Regions from separate parts of the Homo sapiens genome. Here all the other regions are reported to be linked to region 1. Evidence: microRNA targets listed by miRTarBase, many of them from high-throughput screens and not tested one by one. Region 1 holds a microRNA gene; each other region holds the end of a gene's coding sequence.
The links. The annotated mature microRNA hsa-miR-28-5p reads AAGGAGCUCACAGUCUAUUGAG and lies in region 1 at 2,933-2,954, opposite strand. An mRNA with a match to its seed (bases 2 to 7 or 8) in the 3' UTR can be bound and repressed. Matches are read on the target gene's strand: a 7mer-m8 pairs with bases 2 to 8, a 7mer-A1 pairs with bases 2 to 7 and ends in A, and an 8mer does both.

Region 2: the mRNA of PIANP is a reported target of hsa-miR-28-5p. Seed matches in the 3' UTR shown: 7mer-m8 at 3,128-3,134 and 7mer-A1 at 1,750-1,756.
Region 3: the mRNA of ATG9A is a reported target of hsa-miR-28-5p. Seed matches in the 3' UTR shown: 7mer-A1 at 2,809-2,815.
Region 4: the mRNA of NUDCD3 is a reported target of hsa-miR-28-5p. Seed matches in the 3' UTR shown: 7mer-m8 at 1,294-1,300.

Annotation. Positions count from the first base shown.
Region 1 is chr3:188,687,600-188,691,747 of GRCh38, reverse strand. It overlaps MIR28 (microRNA 28), which reads right to left and starts at 2,967; the gene lies at 2,882-2,967. All of the region lies in intron 7 of LPP (LIM domain containing preferred translocation partner in lipoma), which reads right to left.
Region 2 is chr12:6,692,151-6,696,150 of GRCh38, forward strand. It overlaps PIANP (PILR alpha associated neural protein), which reads right to left. Exons shown (of 5, transcript NM_001244014.2): 5 at 1,641-3,501. The coding sequence ends at 3,276. Among named protein-coding and RNA genes, the nearest start is that of ZNF384, 4.8 kb to the left of the region's middle.
Region 3 is chr2:219,216,708-219,220,707 of GRCh38, forward strand. It overlaps ATG9A (autophagy related 9A), which reads right to left. Exons shown (of 16, transcript NM_001077198.3): 16 at 2,673-3,745. The coding sequence ends at 3,740. ABCB6 (ATP binding cassette subfamily B member 6 (LAN blood group)) reads right to left here and starts at 2,251. Exons shown (of 19, transcript NM_005689.4): 1 at 1,418-2,251; 2 at 963-1,100; 3 at 1-125. The coding sequence starts at 1,966. RefSeq lists an enhancer at 1,468-2,335 and a silencer at 1,581-1,690.
Region 4 is chr7:44,382,332-44,386,331 of GRCh38, forward strand. It overlaps NUDCD3 (NudC domain containing 3), which reads right to left. Exons shown (of 6, transcript NM_015332.4): 6 at 1-3,790. The coding sequence ends at 3,680. Among named protein-coding and RNA genes, the nearest start is that of CAMK2B, 59 kb to the left of the region's middle.

The DNA of each region.
Region 1 (4,148 bases):
AAATAAGAATAGAGCAGCCTGGCTGCTAGAGTTCTATGTTCCTCTCTATCATAAACTTTCTGGGTGCTATTTAGGAAATCATTTCACCTCTCTGGGTCCGGTTTCCTCAAGTGGGCGCAATCATCTTCAATCTTCTAATGCACATGTTTCTTGCAACAAATAAACCAAACAGGAGAAGTAGGACTACTCAAGTAATTTGTGAATGGCAATATGAATAAAGGGACACACAAACCATCATCATGTACATCGTCACCATCCACCTTTTTATTATTACAGCTAACCTTTGGGCCAGGCCTTACTCCAAATGCTTCAGATGTATTTCATCCACCCTGCATCTTGATTAGGTGGTTACTTTTATTGCCCTCATTCAGTGCTAAGGAAATTAAAGCACAGATTTCTAAGTAGAGCACTCAAGGCACTGAAGCCTGGATTCCAGTATGACTCTATAGTCCATGGCCTTCACCAGTCAGCTACATGTAGTATTACAAGAGTGGCATTATCAGTACCTATTTGTTATCCCTTCTCTACTTTCGAACTTTTAGCTATGTCATTATATTGCACTCATAACTAAAAATGAATAAAGTTTAACCCAAATTGTATTTACTGAGCAGGCACAAGGTGGCAGATACTGCATTAGTCAGCACTTTGATGATAAAGGTAAGGATAAACTTAGAAATGCAAAATAGTCATGACACAGTAGCTTAAACTGACAGGCAGGAGTAGCTAATACTGTTTCTCTCTAGGGAAAAATATGGATAGAAGTATCTTAAAGGAAGAAAGAAAGGGTCTCAGATGAAGATAAAAACAGTCATGAGAGATAACCCATAATTACCTACTTAAAATGTATAGGGATTATACTAGATGAATGTTCTAAAAACTACACATAATATTGTTAGCATCCTTCTACAAATAGAGGCCCATGAAAATTAAGGAGTTCCCTAAAATCTAACAGGTAGTACAGGTAGGGCAAGACTCAAGTCTGAGTCTGTCTGGGTCTAGCAACTGTGTTCTTAACTACCAAACTACCCCTAAAAGAAGAAGAAGAATGTGGAAAGAGAGAACACTTTGACTATTCTCTCCTTCTACCAGGGTCTGACTACAGGGATTTTGGTAAGTATTTATAGAACCCATCTACATTTTACACAGCTATTTATCATCCTTTAAAATGTGTTATTGCTTGTGCTCAAAGGGAACACGAAAATTAGGGCACCGTATCCATTCCAACTTGTAGATTAAAGGAACACAGAATGTTTTTTGAAACATTAGAAAAATTAGATGTAAAACCACAAATAAAGAAAAAAACTTATCTTTCAGGGAGCAGACCCCTTGAAACAACATATTTTTTGCTTCAACAAATACTTTCTGCTAGCATTACTGTGGCATACTAAGAAGTTTATCGATTTAGAGTTATCAAGCTCTAACCTCCAAAGGAAAAGCCTAACCCCGAGCAAACAGCAATACTGACATGTCACATAGCGTAATGAACACTGGACTCGGGAGCCAGAGGACTAGGATTTATGCCCCAAGCCTGCTGCATACTAGTCACATGACCTAGCTATGTCACATAATCTCTCTGCATCTCGCCTGCTTATTCTAGACTAGGTCAATTCCATTTGCACTTTATAAGGTAGGTATGAAGATGATGACCTTTGGGAGCATTATGCACATCTTTCAGAGTTTGTCACATGTAAATATTGGCAATATCTTGGGTTACCTTGTGATAAAGTCAGGGAAACAGATGCAGTGATTTCACAGGTCAGAGAAGGATATTCAACTTAAAAATCCCATTCTGGATTTTCTAAGGTCACTTATTGAGCCAAAAAAAAAAAATGAGCTCAGAATTCCTGATATACCATCATGTGTCAATGGGACAAAAATTACTAATATTTATCTCACTAGTTTCTGATACAACAGGAAACCTCTAACAAACAGGTAGCATAATAAGCTATATGGATTTGGGCAAGTCACTTCACTTCTGTGGGTCTCAACTATACCCATTCCTCCGCTCACTTGTGATTCAACAAATATAGTAAAGGGTACTAATTCTTACCATATGGACCTCAGAGAGACTATTAGGAACTGTGAAGTGAGATAATGAACTGTGAAAATTCTCCGAAAACAATGAAATGTCAAACAAACCTGGAGGACATTATGTTGAGTGAAATAAGCCAGGCACAGAAAGATAAATATTGCATGATCTCACTCAAGTGTGGAATCTAAAAAAGTTGATCTCATGGAAGTAGAGAGTAGAATAGTGGTTAACACCTCCTCTAAGCCACTGTGAGAAGGACTCCATCACTTGCAAATACAATTGATTACACAAAGCACAAGCAAGTCAACTTTTCCTGCCAAGAAGATTTGTTGCCCTTGGTGAAATAATAGCATTCTGGCCAGAAAGGAAATTTCATCATTTTCCTATGACTTCGATTCTGACTTTTGCAATATGCATGCCTGGGCTTCAGAGTCCAGAACCCAATTCTGGCCCTGTTAGTTTACAGCCTAGAGCCAGTGATTTGATCACTGACTGAGCTGAGGATAGATTTGCTAACTACCATAGCTGGGTGCCAGGCCGACCCCAGGCTCAAATCCTCCCAACACTGAGGCTGCATAGACAGGCTCTCCAGCCAAGCAGGCAGCAGAAGTGTCCTGAATGTTTACCATGTACCAGGCACAGAGATAGAGGAGGAAATAGCATACACAGAGCTCCTGCTGTGTCAATCACATCTCATTCTTTTCTCGTTTAATCTTTCCCTGATGAGGTAGGCAGTATTAGCTCTGATTTTCAGAGCAGTTAACAGATGTGAACAAAGTTAAAATAATAGAGGCGGGATTGTAATCTAGGATTAACACTGAAATTTAAGCTCTTTTTCAGATGAACGAAAGTGCCTGCCCTCCAGGAGCTCACAATCTAGTGGGAAAGTCAGAAAGGTAACTCAATAGACTGTGAGCTCCTTGAGGGCAAGGACCATTTTAAATTTTTTCTTGTATCTTCAGCATCAAGCATGTTGTCTACCATGCAAAAGGCACTTAATAAGTGCTTGCTGAATAGACAAGCCATATTTAGATGTTGCCCTTCATAAAATACAAACCTAATTATATTACTCATCTGACTTCACAAACCTCTTCTAGCTCCTCTTTGTCAAACTCCTGAGTACTACTTAGAAAGTCCTTGAAGGGCCTGCCTTCATAGTCTCATCTTCTGTGATTCCCTTCCACATCCTCTGTGTACCACACTTCCATCTTCCAACTATCTTGGCATATAGGTGGTGTTCAACAAATGTTCATTGAATGGGCAAACAAAGCCAAGAAGGGATATATCTGCATAACATCAGAGGCATCAATATAATGCCTTATGAACACCAAGGGTAGATTTATCCAACTGAAGGCATCAGGAAGGTTTCACAGAAGACAGGACAATTGATTTGAGTCATTAACTCTAAAATCTCAAAGGCTAGATGACATTGCATAGGGAAAATTCAATCCTCTTTTGCTATTAATTAGGCAAATGACATCATAACAAAACATTTTTCTTTAAACCAGAATATGAGCTGTGCCAAATTCCGTCATCTAAAGGATATGGGTTTAGGCCAAAAGCCCATCATATAGATTATTGTTTTTCTTCTCCCAAGTACTTTGGAAAAACTAAGTCTCATTTGGCATGCAGTGCCTCTCAGCAAGGTCATGGTTCTTCTGCCGTGGTGCCTGGGGCAGTTAAGGTAAGAATTGTGTTTCAAAAAAATACCTCAGACACTGTTAAGAATAAGATAACGTGGTGAAACCCCGTCTCTACTAAAAATACAAAAAAATTAGCCAGGCATGGTGATGGGCGCCTGTAGTCCCAGCTACTCGGGAGGCTGAGGCAGGAGAATGGCATGAACCCGGGAGGTGGAGGTTGCAGTGAGCCGAGATCGTGCCACTGCACCCCAGCCTGGGCGACAGAGCGAGACTTCATCTCAAAAAAAAAAAAAAAAAGAGTATAAGACAGCTGGTTAGACAGGATGACATGGGAATATTCAGAGCTTTGGTCAAGAAATCAGACCAATGAGTCAGTAAGAAAGGGTCATTGAATTACTCCATTTTCACACTGCTATAAAAAACTTCCCTGAGAATGGGTAATTTCTAAAGAGGTTTAACTGACTCACAGTTCC
Region 2 (4,000 bases), not on the chromosome of region 1:
GGAGGACATTTAGGAAGAGGGAACAGGTGAGGATTTCCAGTACCTTGCTGGTGTATTTTAATTTATTTAAATTTAGAGAAACAGTGGTCTAATCAGGCAGTAATTAATTCCCTCTTCATTAGGGGCCTTCATGTTTGCCTTTTGCATATGGATGAGCCACGGGTCACACTGTCCCTTTGAAGAGAGATCCTTGCTGAAGGTGAGAGCCCAGTGTGCTCTCCGGCACTTGAGCTCCTTCCCCTTCTGTGCCAATGCTTCTCTTTTCTCCCCACCCTCACCTGACAAGGACTAGATTCCTGTGGGGAAAGAAGGAAAGGTTAATGAAGCTTCCTATCCCACCCTCCTTGGATCTGGATCCCTCCCTCACGGCCCACAGTGTATACCATCCATGCCTCATCCTGTACCCTCAGGTTTTATCCAGCCCGCTCTCCCATCAGCCACCTGCTGGGATATCTTCATGCCCCCAGTGAGTTGACTCCTCAGAAGCTTGTTTGCCGGGCACCTCTGCTTTGAGTTGGTTCATCAATCCTTGGCCCAGCTCTGCTTCTTTCCCTTGTAGCAGTCCTTTTCTTAGGGAGTGTGACGCCCTGAATGCACACACTGCTCTAATCCTGAGAAATACACTGCCTCTTCCTGGCACTCAGCATTATGTGCTGCACAGGCTCAGCCACACTTCCCTCAGCTCACAGTAAAGCTCCCAACACCTAAAGCACACACCTACCAACACACAGACATTCCTAACCTAGCTTGAAAGATAAATGCATGGGGGCATATCCAGTCCAGAGCAGCCCAGGCCACCCTTTTGTACACTACATCATCCCTATCCTCCCTGGGGCCACCGCATTTCCAGGGAGCAAGTGGGGCACAGATTGGGGGAGGGGGGATAGATGGGACCTGGGTGGTTACCATAGCAATAGAGCCTAGCAACAGCTGAGAGGCTGATGTGTGGGTTTTCACAGGGCTGTTACAAGAGCCAAACCTAGAAATTGGGGACTGAGAGGTGACTGATCCCAGCTGGGCAGCCTGCATTCCCTCCCCAAAAACACCCCTTGATCCCACCCCCACACCCCTGCAGTGCCTCTCTCTGAGAGGGCAGAGTAGGGAAAGCTAACGAGTTAACCACAGGGCTTCTGATTCTGCACAGCTTTTGGGGGGCAGCTGTGGGTGGGGGCAGGTTAGGGAGCAAAGCTGAAAATAAACCAAGCAGGGCAGCTTCTTTCGGATGGCTGGCTCCCTCTCATCTTTTCTCCATTGCTCCATTTTTCTCTTCTCCTTTCCCCCTTCTCCCTCCGTCTGTCTTATCAGGTCTCTCTTCCGCCTTGATCCACCTCCTATCCTTCCATGTAACTTTCCTTTTCTTCTGTCTCCCTTTTTTTGGTCTCTCTTGACCCTCCCTGGCAAGGAATAAGTGAGCCACGATTTCTATTCTAGTTTCTCTCTTGTACCACTGCTCCTCGTCAGGATGGCTCCCTTCCATTTTGTCCCAAGTTAAAGCCCCAGTTGGCCCCCAGCTCCAGGTCAGAGGAGGGCAGGTGACTTAGGTCTAGAGGGGGTCCCCACCTCATCCTGTGCCTCCTCCTAGCTGCCCACCCCTCTCCTCCTCTCTACGGGGGTCAGAAGGCAGAACCAGGGGACTCGAGTATCTTGCAAAGGCTTTATTTGAAAATTTTGAAACTTACATCCCACAGTAATTCAAGATGATCACCACAAGAAGAAGAAAGAGATAATACAAAAATATATATCACAGCCTAGGAGCCAGGGAAGAAGGGAAGGAGGAAGGTGGAAAAACCAGTGAGAAGGAGGGAAGAACCTGAGGAGGGGGAAAGGGCAGGGAAGCAAAAGGAAGGAGAGTGGAAGGAAGGAGGGAGGAAAGGAGGGGACAGGAGGGAGTCCGGGAAGGGAAGGGTAGACTTGGAGGCAGAGCTCCCGATGGCCTTGAACCAGCTGACTCCGGTCCCTGGCAGCCTAGGTGGAGTTAGGGAGGCCCAAAGGGAGGCTGGGAAGGGAGGACTGGCTCAGGGGGCTCTGAAGTCCAGAGAATGGCACACACACAGACAGCCAGGACAGACAAGACAAAAGGGACTGTAGGAGAAAGGGAAGGGCAAATGGGAGTCCCTTTCTCATGTAGTGCAGCAGGCGACTCCCCAAAACCCATCTGTCAGAAAACAGATTTTAGCAGTGGGCTGGGGGTGAAGTCTGGGGCCTCACTACCCCATTCCCAAGGGGGAGCCCTCAGGGTGATGCCGGCATCCTTGGAGTAGGATGGGGAGACAGAGAAACAAATGGTGTGGAATGGGACGAGACCATGACCGATGAGGGCCCAAGGAGCCCCCAGCTCACCTCCCACCCACCTCTGGAGCAGCACGCAGGGGCTGCGGAAACGAGGTGGGTGGGTGTTCATGAGGGAGAGAGTGAGCACGCCGCACACCACCACAACATCAGGCCGGGAAACGCACATGAGAGGTAAAGTGTGCAGGAAACGCTGACCACTGAGTGAGCTGAGCACAGAATGTGGGAAGGAGAGAGTGCAAATGTGAGACGAGAGAACATGAGAGTCAGCTGAGCGGAGCGGTATGGACGGGGAGAGGGTGCAGGAGCGTGTGCAAATGGCCTGTGAAGGTGGAGGTGAGTGTGCAAGGCTTTCATGTGAGTGCACAAGGGTGGGGACAGGGACCCGAAGTCACAGATATGTGAGGCCCCCACCTGCAGGAGGGCGAGCAGATAGGATTGCCCGTGGGGCTGGGGAGTGTTCCGGGTGGTGTGCAAGGGGCAGGAGCCAGGAGCCCCTGTGGCCCCAGCTCCCCACAGCTGCCCCACCCTCAGTGGGATGGGGGCTGTGCCGGCCCCTTGGCCTCCTGCTTGGCTGCACCCCAACATTGGGGGCATCACAGATTCACCAGGGGAATCCTGAGAGGAAGAGGGAAAGGGCACAGTCAGGAACCAAGGGGTAGGCCAGAATAGAAGGGGAAGTTCAAGACAAAGAGGGGGAATCAAGGTTAAGAGGGCAGAGTTGTCTTAGACAAGGTGGCATGAGAAAAAACCAAAGAGGGCAGAGTTGGAGTTATGGGCAGCAGAGAATAGGACACAGATCCTGAGAGACTGGGAGAAGGAAGGGTGCCTCCCAGAGAGGAGCTGGTCCAGCCCCCTTGGGAGGGCCAGGGGCTGTGGGAGGCCACGCCTGCCTCCTCACTACCCATCCAGAGGGCACCCCCACCCCAGCTCTGAAGACCTAAGTTGCCTTCCCTCTTTGCCCTCCCATCCCATTGCCCCTGCCCTCACCGGTTCAACTGGAAGGCTGGAGCCCCCTTGGGGTGGGGCATCCCAGGCCGGGGTCCCCCTCGGGGCTCCTCATGGTCAGGGGTGGGGGTAGGTGAGTCCCCGAAGGCCCCCAGCACAGTGACTCCAGCCGGGGACAGGTCTGTCAGTGGCTGCTGGCTCTCCTCCTGCCTCAGGGCACCTTGCTGCCCTGAGGGTCTGCGTCGCTTCTGGCTGCGGTCCCAGCTGGGGTACCAGAGGAAAAGAGGTTCTCTTGCACACTCAAGTAGCCCCCATCCTGGGCCTGCACCAGTGGTCACCCCCAGCCTCGCCCAGTCACTCCCAACATCTTATAGCAGAGAAACTGGCCTTTAACAGTTCTCTCTACTAAATCCCCTGGGACTCTGTGCCCATAAAGCCACTTCCCCTGCCCTCTAGGGGAGCTTGGTAATCTAAACCTCCTTACCCTCCAAACCTGATCCAGATCGACAAAATTAATATCCCCTCCCCACCACCACAATGTCCTCTCCCCTACATGCCCAGAAGAGTCATTTCTGTCTTCAGCAGACAACTGGCAGGTTTAGTTCTAGTTCAAAGCAAGCTGATGACTTGGACACCTGAGTCTAATGATTCTCTCAGTAAAGTGTGAAGGACTGAGTGATCCATTATTAAATGTGTGCAAAGAAAGCTCCAGGTTTTCTTGCTCCCCCCAGGCAACCCTAAGAAGGGCTCTGCAGACTGGGTC
Region 3 (4,000 bases), not on the chromosome of region 1:
AGCCCCAGGCAGATGAGCACCACCAGCTGCAGAGCTGGACTCCCTCGAGGCCACAGGTAGCCACTCAGGAGGCGGAGCTTCCTGCCAAAATCTCGCCAGGTAGACTGTTGGGCTGCTGACCGAACCTAGGATGGTGAAACACGTAGGAAGGGAGCTCAGAAATCAAGTAAGTGCACTAGCCAGAAACCCTTCAGGGAAAAACCTATGGGGTTACAGCTCCCAGGTATCTCAGACCCACAAGTGATCCTTGATGGGGTCAGAAAAACTAAGTTGCAAACTGAGATTTGGAAAAGAAGCATTTCATTTTGGGGGAAGGAATGATGACAGGGAATGAAATGAAGAGACTCCAGGATTCAGAAACTGAGGTGGGGTCTGGTGCAGTGGCTCATGCCTGTAATCCCAGCACTTTGGGAGTCCGAGGCAGGTGGGTCACCTGAGGTCAGGAGTTCAAGACTAGCCTGGCCAACATGGTGAAACCCCATCTCCACTAAAAATACAAAAATTAGCCGGGTACACACCTGTAATCCCAGCTACTTGGGAGGCTGAGGCACGAGAATTGTTTGAACCCAGGAGGCAGAGGGTGCAGTGAGCTGAGATCGCGCCACTACACTCCAGCCTGGGTGACGGAGCAAGATTCCGTCTTAAAAACAAAAAGAGGCCAGGCGCAGTGGCTCACGCCTGTAATCCTAGCACTTTGGGAGGCTGAGGCAGGCGGATCACGAGGTCAAGAGATCGAGACCATCCTGGCCAATGCTGTGAAACCCTGTCTCTACTAAAAATACAAAACTTAGCTGGGTGTGGTGTCATGCACCTGTAGTCCCAGCTACTCAGGAGGCTGAGGCAGGAGAATCGCTTGAACCCGGGAGGTGGAGGTTGCAGTGAGCTGAGATCACGCCACTGCACTCCAGCCTGGTGACAGAGCAAGACTCCGTCTCCAAAAAAAAAAAGAAACTGAGGTGTACCTGGCTCCTTTCCACATCTTGGTCCTCTTCATGAACCTGCAATGTATAGGACTGGGGACGAAGTCCAGGGGCCCAGAGACCCAGGACAAACAGCCCTCCAGAGACCACATACCGCAGCACCCACAGGCTAAACTGAACCTAGAATGAAATATAAGTGGAGAGAGTATCATTGAGGATAAAATTTCATTGTATTACTACTTATAATAGGGCCGGGGACTGGTGTCATGAACACATTCAGCACTTACAGGCTTAAAAAAAAAAAAAAAAGCAAAACCACAGTGACTCAGCAAAGACACACCCCACCAGCTGGCTATCAGCTCCCGGCAGGACTCAGCCCCTCCCTTCTCCCTTTGCTTAGAGGCATCCTAAAGCCTGGAAGCAGTGTGACTGGACATGCAGTGCTTTCTCCCAAGCCCGGCCAGCAGAGGCTTCCCCCTTCCCACAGAGTCCCTCACCTGCTGGCCCAAGTCTGCCCTTGCCCACCACCACTGTGGGCTGTTCCAAGACACCAGGGCCAAGTTCTCAGCTGCAAACGCCACAGTCCAGAGGAGCAGGAGACCAGGGCTGTGCCTGAACTTGATCCAGATGCCCATTGCCAGACGCTGCCGTGCCTGGCTCCGCTCCACGACAAGCAGCCACAGGCCACAGGCGCCGGCCAGACTCTCCAGCACGGAGGCCAGAAGTAGATAGCTTGGCAGTGGGGCCCCCCGGGCAGTGCCCACCCGGCCAGCCAGGCCGGCCAGGGGCAGCGCCGCCTGAAGTGTGGCCAGAAGCAGCTGCAGCACGTAGGGAGAGATGCGAGGGCCGGCCCCCCAAGACAGCGAATCAGCACCAGCGGGCCGCTCCCGGCGTCTGCAGGGAAGAGCCAGCACCAAGGCCAGAGTCCCCAGAGCCATCCGCGTCGAGGGCACGAGCGTGAAGAAGAAGCAGGGACTCAGGCCATCCTGCATCCAGGCCGGACCCACGGGCCCTTCGGCCTCGCAGTAGTTGCCCACAGTCACCATGGCAATGCGTGGACGCCGGCCGAGGCTGCGGGCACTGCGGGACCGGAGGCCGGGACTGGTCACTCGGAGAGGGGCGCGGACATCCGGGTGCCTTGGCTCACGTAGCCGCTGGGCGCCAAGCTGCGGGGGTCCCGGGAAGGGACGCACGTGGACCAGGCCTCACCGCCCACTCCCCTAGCGCACGCGCCGCCGCCACGCACTCACGCAGGGCACGTACGCCGTCTCAGCACGGCCCCGCTGGCTCTGGGCCCGGGACCCTCCTGCCAACTGCAGGCCCACGGGAATGCTCGGTGTTGGACTCGCACCGCGCTCCACGGCTGTAGCCCCGCCCACAGCCCCTACCCACGGCTCCCATTGGCCAAATGTCTCCGAGGGGGGAGCGGGGGGAATGGTGCAGGCAACGAATGCAAATTAGAGAAGCAGAGCCGGCTTGGTCACGTGCCCAGGGCGGGAAATCTGACGACCAGGCCGAGCTGGAAACCTCCACGGAATCGTGGCTCGGGGCTGGAAACAGACCTCACGGAATCCTGGCTCGGGGCAGGACACAGACCTCCACGGAACTGTGGGTCGGAAGCTGCCCTTCCGCCAGCCGCCTTGCTCAGCGTATCTGAGCGACGGCCTAAACATACTTTCTTCTAGACCCCGGCAGAGTCCCCATCCCATTTCTCTTGTTCCCAGGATTCTAGCCGCGCGAGACAACAAGAAGTCTGGTCAAACTCCCTTTTTATTAAGGGTTATCAAGCTGTACACGGTCCCTACCCTGCTCCGCTCCGAGTTCGGGCAGCGCAATTCACCACTCTCCCAAAGCCGGACCACAGCTGGGTGAGGGGTGGGACAGAGAGTAGGAGCAGTCCCAGCATGCAGTGCAGCAGCCCAAAGCCTCGGGCGAGGCATCGCCCTTCATCCCCCTTCAGGGCACAGCGAGATGCGGGCCAGAGCTCTTTTGCTGGGACGCACACAGCCAAGGTCACCCTCCAGCCCGGTCTGTCCCATGTGCAGGTGATGGGGGGTACGATAAGCAGCAATGAGGGCCCAGGAAGACCTCAGTCTCCTGGGGGCCCATCCTAAAAGATGGCAAGGGCAGCAAAGTATTTCCATCCTGCTCCTACAATTTAGAAACCTTCTTTTTTAGTGTCAAAATATAGCGTTGAGGGGAGCTGGACGCTAGGGTCTTCACCCTAACGCAAAGCAAAAGCCGAACGGAACGGGAGCAAGCGAACAGAACAGGAGCAAGCAGCACACACAGGCCAGTGATGTGCAAGAAGCGGAGAGAGGTGAGCCGGCTGCAGCACTGGGCGAGAACTGCGGGTGAGGTAAGGGCCACAGCCTGACCTGCTCATCTATTGAGGGGGCTAGGGAAGGTTGCAGGGGTTGAGGGTCCAGGCCCAACCTCCCCACTCCACAGTTGGCACAGGTTCTCCCTGCTTGGCAGCTTCTATCGTGGGCAGCCCTCTGGGGACTTGCAGGGGTAGGTGTAAAGGTGGCAGTACTGGGGCTGGGCTGGGGGCCAGTTTCTAGCACCACACTCTGAGCCAAGGGGGTCCTGGGGATGAGGCTAGAGTCCCGTGTGCCCTCGGTTCCTAGGCCCCAAATTCCTCTCCTGGGGCTGTGGCAAGCCCAGTGTTGGCACCTCCCTTGGCCAGGCACAGACACACAAACACCACACACGTGGGGCCAGGGAACACTCAGAGGAGCCGTCCCATGGCAGGCAGACGGGATGGCAGGGCAGCGGTGGCCTCCATCCTGGGCCACAGGAACCCTGCTCAGCCTTGTCTATACCTGTGGGGAGAAAGGGTTGGTAATGGAGATAGTCTTCAGCTTCTGGTTGATACCTGCTAGCCCCATAGAAACCTAGAGGTAAAGGGACAGGAAAGGTTGATTCCTGGGGAGGTAAGGTAAGGAAAAACCAAGCCCTGCAGAGCAGTTGAGAAAAGAAGGGGTAGTGTGTTTTGGAAGGGAGGGTACAGTATCTCTGTGTGGGGGTGGGGCATATCTTCCTTCCCCTGAAAAGCTGTTACCTCACCCTGGAAGTTA
Region 4 (4,000 bases), not on the chromosome of region 1:
AAAGAAAAAAAAAGGTAAAATTAACAAATCCATATTAGTGTGAGCTGGGTGAGTAGTTTAGTCTGAAATGACAGAATATTCATTTTTCGTCTCTCTGAGATAGTGACCACACTGTCCTCACCAGGACTGGCAGGGGAAGCCCCAGGGCTTTGTGACCCTGTCCCTATGGGGCACCCTGGCGTCCAGTGGGCACTCCCCAGGGCAGCAGCCTGGTTTAAATGCCTGTTCCCCAGACCCCACAGTCAGACGGTAGAGAGGAGCCTCAGGGACATAGCCCAGTTCTTCAGGACCGTGGGCCACATGGGCTGCTTGACCTCTGACCACCAAGGAGGGAGTTTCTCAAGGACTGGCCAGGTTCTGTGCTGACAACTTCGTGCTTTTCATCGACAAAGCGAGTCATGCTGTCCCTTCCCCAGCTGAGCTGGCTGCCAACAGGCCCAGTGGAGAGCAGATTTGAGGTGGGGGTGAGGTCTGTTCCCCAAGCGCAGTGTTCTGGGCAGTGAGTTCTCTGTGCAGCAGCTGACGCCTCTTGGACACATTTCCACACAAAACACTTCTCAACTGTTCTCCCTCCTGCACTCTTCAGGGGCAAATACGCCTCTCCTTTCTGGCGGGTTATTTCTGGCCCTGGGAGTATGCTAGGCAATTCTAAGGATTGCCTTTGAAACAGTCTTTATTCAGCCAAGTACTTCTCACACCCCTAGGTCCTGTCCCCAGGGGTGAGCAGGGTCAGAGGAGGCTGGAGATGGGGTGGGCACAGAGAAGGAGAGTCAAAGATCTGACTGAGGAAGAAGCAGGTGGCCAGCCACCTGGGAGACTTCTGTGTCAGACACGGCGTTATGTCCTGGAGGAAGCCCATTGCGAGGGCTCAGCAAAGTTAACAGCAGGTATGCACCTGGAGACCAAGGAGGGCCTTGGAGCCTGGTGGGCAAAGGTGGCCCTTCAGTGGAATCATTCCCAACTCTGCACTCACCCTAAGCTTTCCAGTAACTACAGAATTCCAGAACCTGTTTGAAAGGATGTAAGATCTATAGCTACATTCTTTTTCTCCCCACTGGTCAAAATCTTACAGGATTTCTAAAGCTGTATTGAGATCTTGCCCAGTGCATTCAGACCAGATGGGAAACAACCCCTAAGAATTCCCCATGCTGGTGTTTGCTGTGTACGTTGGCCTGGGACCTCAAGGCTAGAATGCAACAATAATGACCATGCACAGACAGAACTGTCTCAGCAGCAAATGTCACACGCAGACCCAGAACTGCTTAAATACCAATTTATTGCAAACCAACACCAAGGAGCTGGAATAGCTTTGCAGGCTGGACACCTCACTCTCCTCGGGCCCTGGACAAGGGAAATGAGTCACCCCGCTTTCCTCGGACCTCAGCTGGTGGGACTTAGTGGCTGGCCAAACTGCGGCTGTTGTGTCTAAAAAGAGAAAACAGGCAGGGTGTGCCAGCTCTGGAGACTGGGCCAGTCCAGGGTGGTGGCTCAGGGCAGAGAATCACCCACCAGACAGCGTGGCTCAACGGGAGCAAGGCGCGCAGGGACAGGCTCCACAACCACACCAAGCACCGCAGTGTGGCACCGGGACCAGATGCAAGTGGCTGTTCCTGCCATGGGGCCAATACCCAATACTATCCCTCAGTCATTCTTCCTAGATATTGGTTTGCTGTTTATTAAAGCAGGGCAGGGAGTGGGGAGAAATGCAACACAGAATATAAAATCAGGCAAAACAAACACTAGTCACCATGGAAGTGAATGACTCTCAAAGTCTCCCAAATAACAAGGTGTAGGGCATCTCACACCACTGCATCACTTCTGGAAGACTACCCACAGGGTGGGGGCTGCAATGGGGGCCAACTCGGGAACTATAGAGAAGAGAGGAGACACACACCACAAGACCTCCTTTCATTAGGCAGGAAAGCTCTTGTGGGACAGTGGTGTGCAAATCCTAGGACCTCAATGGGAAGAACTCCAGGAAAAAAAATGACAAGTCTTTCTCAGGACCCCTCATAGATGACAAGAATTCTGCTCCCCAGGGTCGAGATCTCTTTAGAGGGGCTTCACCAGCTCAGTGGCAAATATCAGACAACAAGACTCTCACATTCCAAAGGGGGTATCTAGGGCCTTTTGCTCTCCTGTGATGATCGGAGCAACATGTTTGGACCCACAGAAGACTTCCCAGGAATGCTTTCTTACAAGGGGTGTCAGCCACCACTGTAAACCAGAAACAAACCACAAACTTACTCTCCAAGAGAGCCCCCACAACCCAAGTATCCATAGAGAGTGTGCAGGAGCGGGGACCTTCCCCTGACAATAGGCCCTCTTAGCATCTGCGGGCCTTGATTCTTGCTGGCCGTGCATGGTGCCAGGGTGCACTGCCCTGCTGTGTGGCTTATCCATGCTCTGAGCTTGACAGACAGGCAAATGGACAGTGCCGGTGGCAGCTGAACCATACTCCCGGCGATGGGCACCCAGAGCCCCTGTGAGTACTTGGAACACAGGCCTGAGGACCTGTCTCATAATCTCGTCTTTGCACCTTGGCTGGAGTCAGTCAGCAGCCATGGCTCAGGGCATAGGCTTGGGGGTCCTGAGGCAGTGACCAGTCCCTGGAGAACAGGTAAGATTGGGCCATAAGTTCCAAGGAGCACAGTCTGGCACCTGGCACAGAGGATGGGAAGAGGGGAGTCTTCACTCTCTTCTGGTTCAGTTGTGGTGGGACAGTGTGCCTTCACGCCCCATGCAGAAATTCCTCCTCTCCCAGAAGCCCTTCAAGGTCAAAGCTTCTCAGGACTTGTGGCTGTCGAGCTCTGCTGAGCTGATGGACATGCTGTGGTCTCCTCCTGAGGGCACCAGCTCTCCACTCCTGCCCACACTTTGACACCGTGCACCCAAAGAGGACGTCTTATGGGGAGCCAAGCACAGCATGCCATGCGTGGTGGCCGGGCTTGGTTCACTTCAACAAGAACCAAAGCAAGGTCGCCACAGTCAGAGAACAGAATCCCCGCTGCATCTGGACCTGAGCCCAGAACCTAGGCTTTCTCCGAACAACTAGAACGTGCAAACAGGGCTCCAGTCTCCACTGCTCTGACCATGAGGCTGAGGCAGGCAAAGCACATTTATAAGGGGATGAGCAAGAAGACCACGTGAATGCTCTCAAAAGAGGTCAAGGGGCAAGGAGTTTCCCAGAGCAGCCTCAGGCACAGCCATTCCTTGCTTGCCCTCATGCAAGCACAGAGCTTCACACACTTCAATGACTTCAGCTTCGCCTGAGAGTCCAGCAACAACTCCACATCCCAACCAGAAGACATGCAAGCAGAATAGCGTCAAAACAACAGCAAGCAGAGAGCAGGGGAGGAAAGACATGCTGCCTGCAGTGGCTGGTTGCTGTGGAGACAAAAGCATGTGATCCCAATTTGCTGGGATATCCTCTCCTGCATTTCAAACACCTTCACTCAGTGTCAGCCACAGCGGCCACCACATAGCAGCTGGCCCCGCACCTTCTCTGGAACAGTCTGGAGATGCAAGGTCAGGGTGGAAGGCCTGGTTCACCCTTGAAAGAAAGGATGGCTAGGGGTAAACAAGACGAGCAAGTCCCTGGAATGCAGGGAGCCAAGAAGGGCAGCCGAGGATAAGGCTCTGCCTCCCCACCGGCGAGGGTTTCCTTTCCTTCTGGTCATTAAAACTGCACAGCCCCCGGGGAGATGTTGAACATGGCAGGGTCGAATCGCTGGCCTCGGAAGGGAGAACCTTCAGCATCCCACCCCTTCTTCAGCATCTCATGGACTTTCTACAAACAGAAAATAGAGAGATTAAAGGGGATCACAACGCACTGTGTACTTTCTCCCAGAGCAGACTCTGACTGCAGGTAGAGAGCCTTCTTGCTTCCTCAGGGCTCAGGCACTTGCCTGGCAAGACCGGCTGGCCAGAGAACTGTACTACCCTGGAGCAGCCTTCGACCAAGGGAGGTACTGGGTGCCTGCCAATTTCTCTCCAAGAC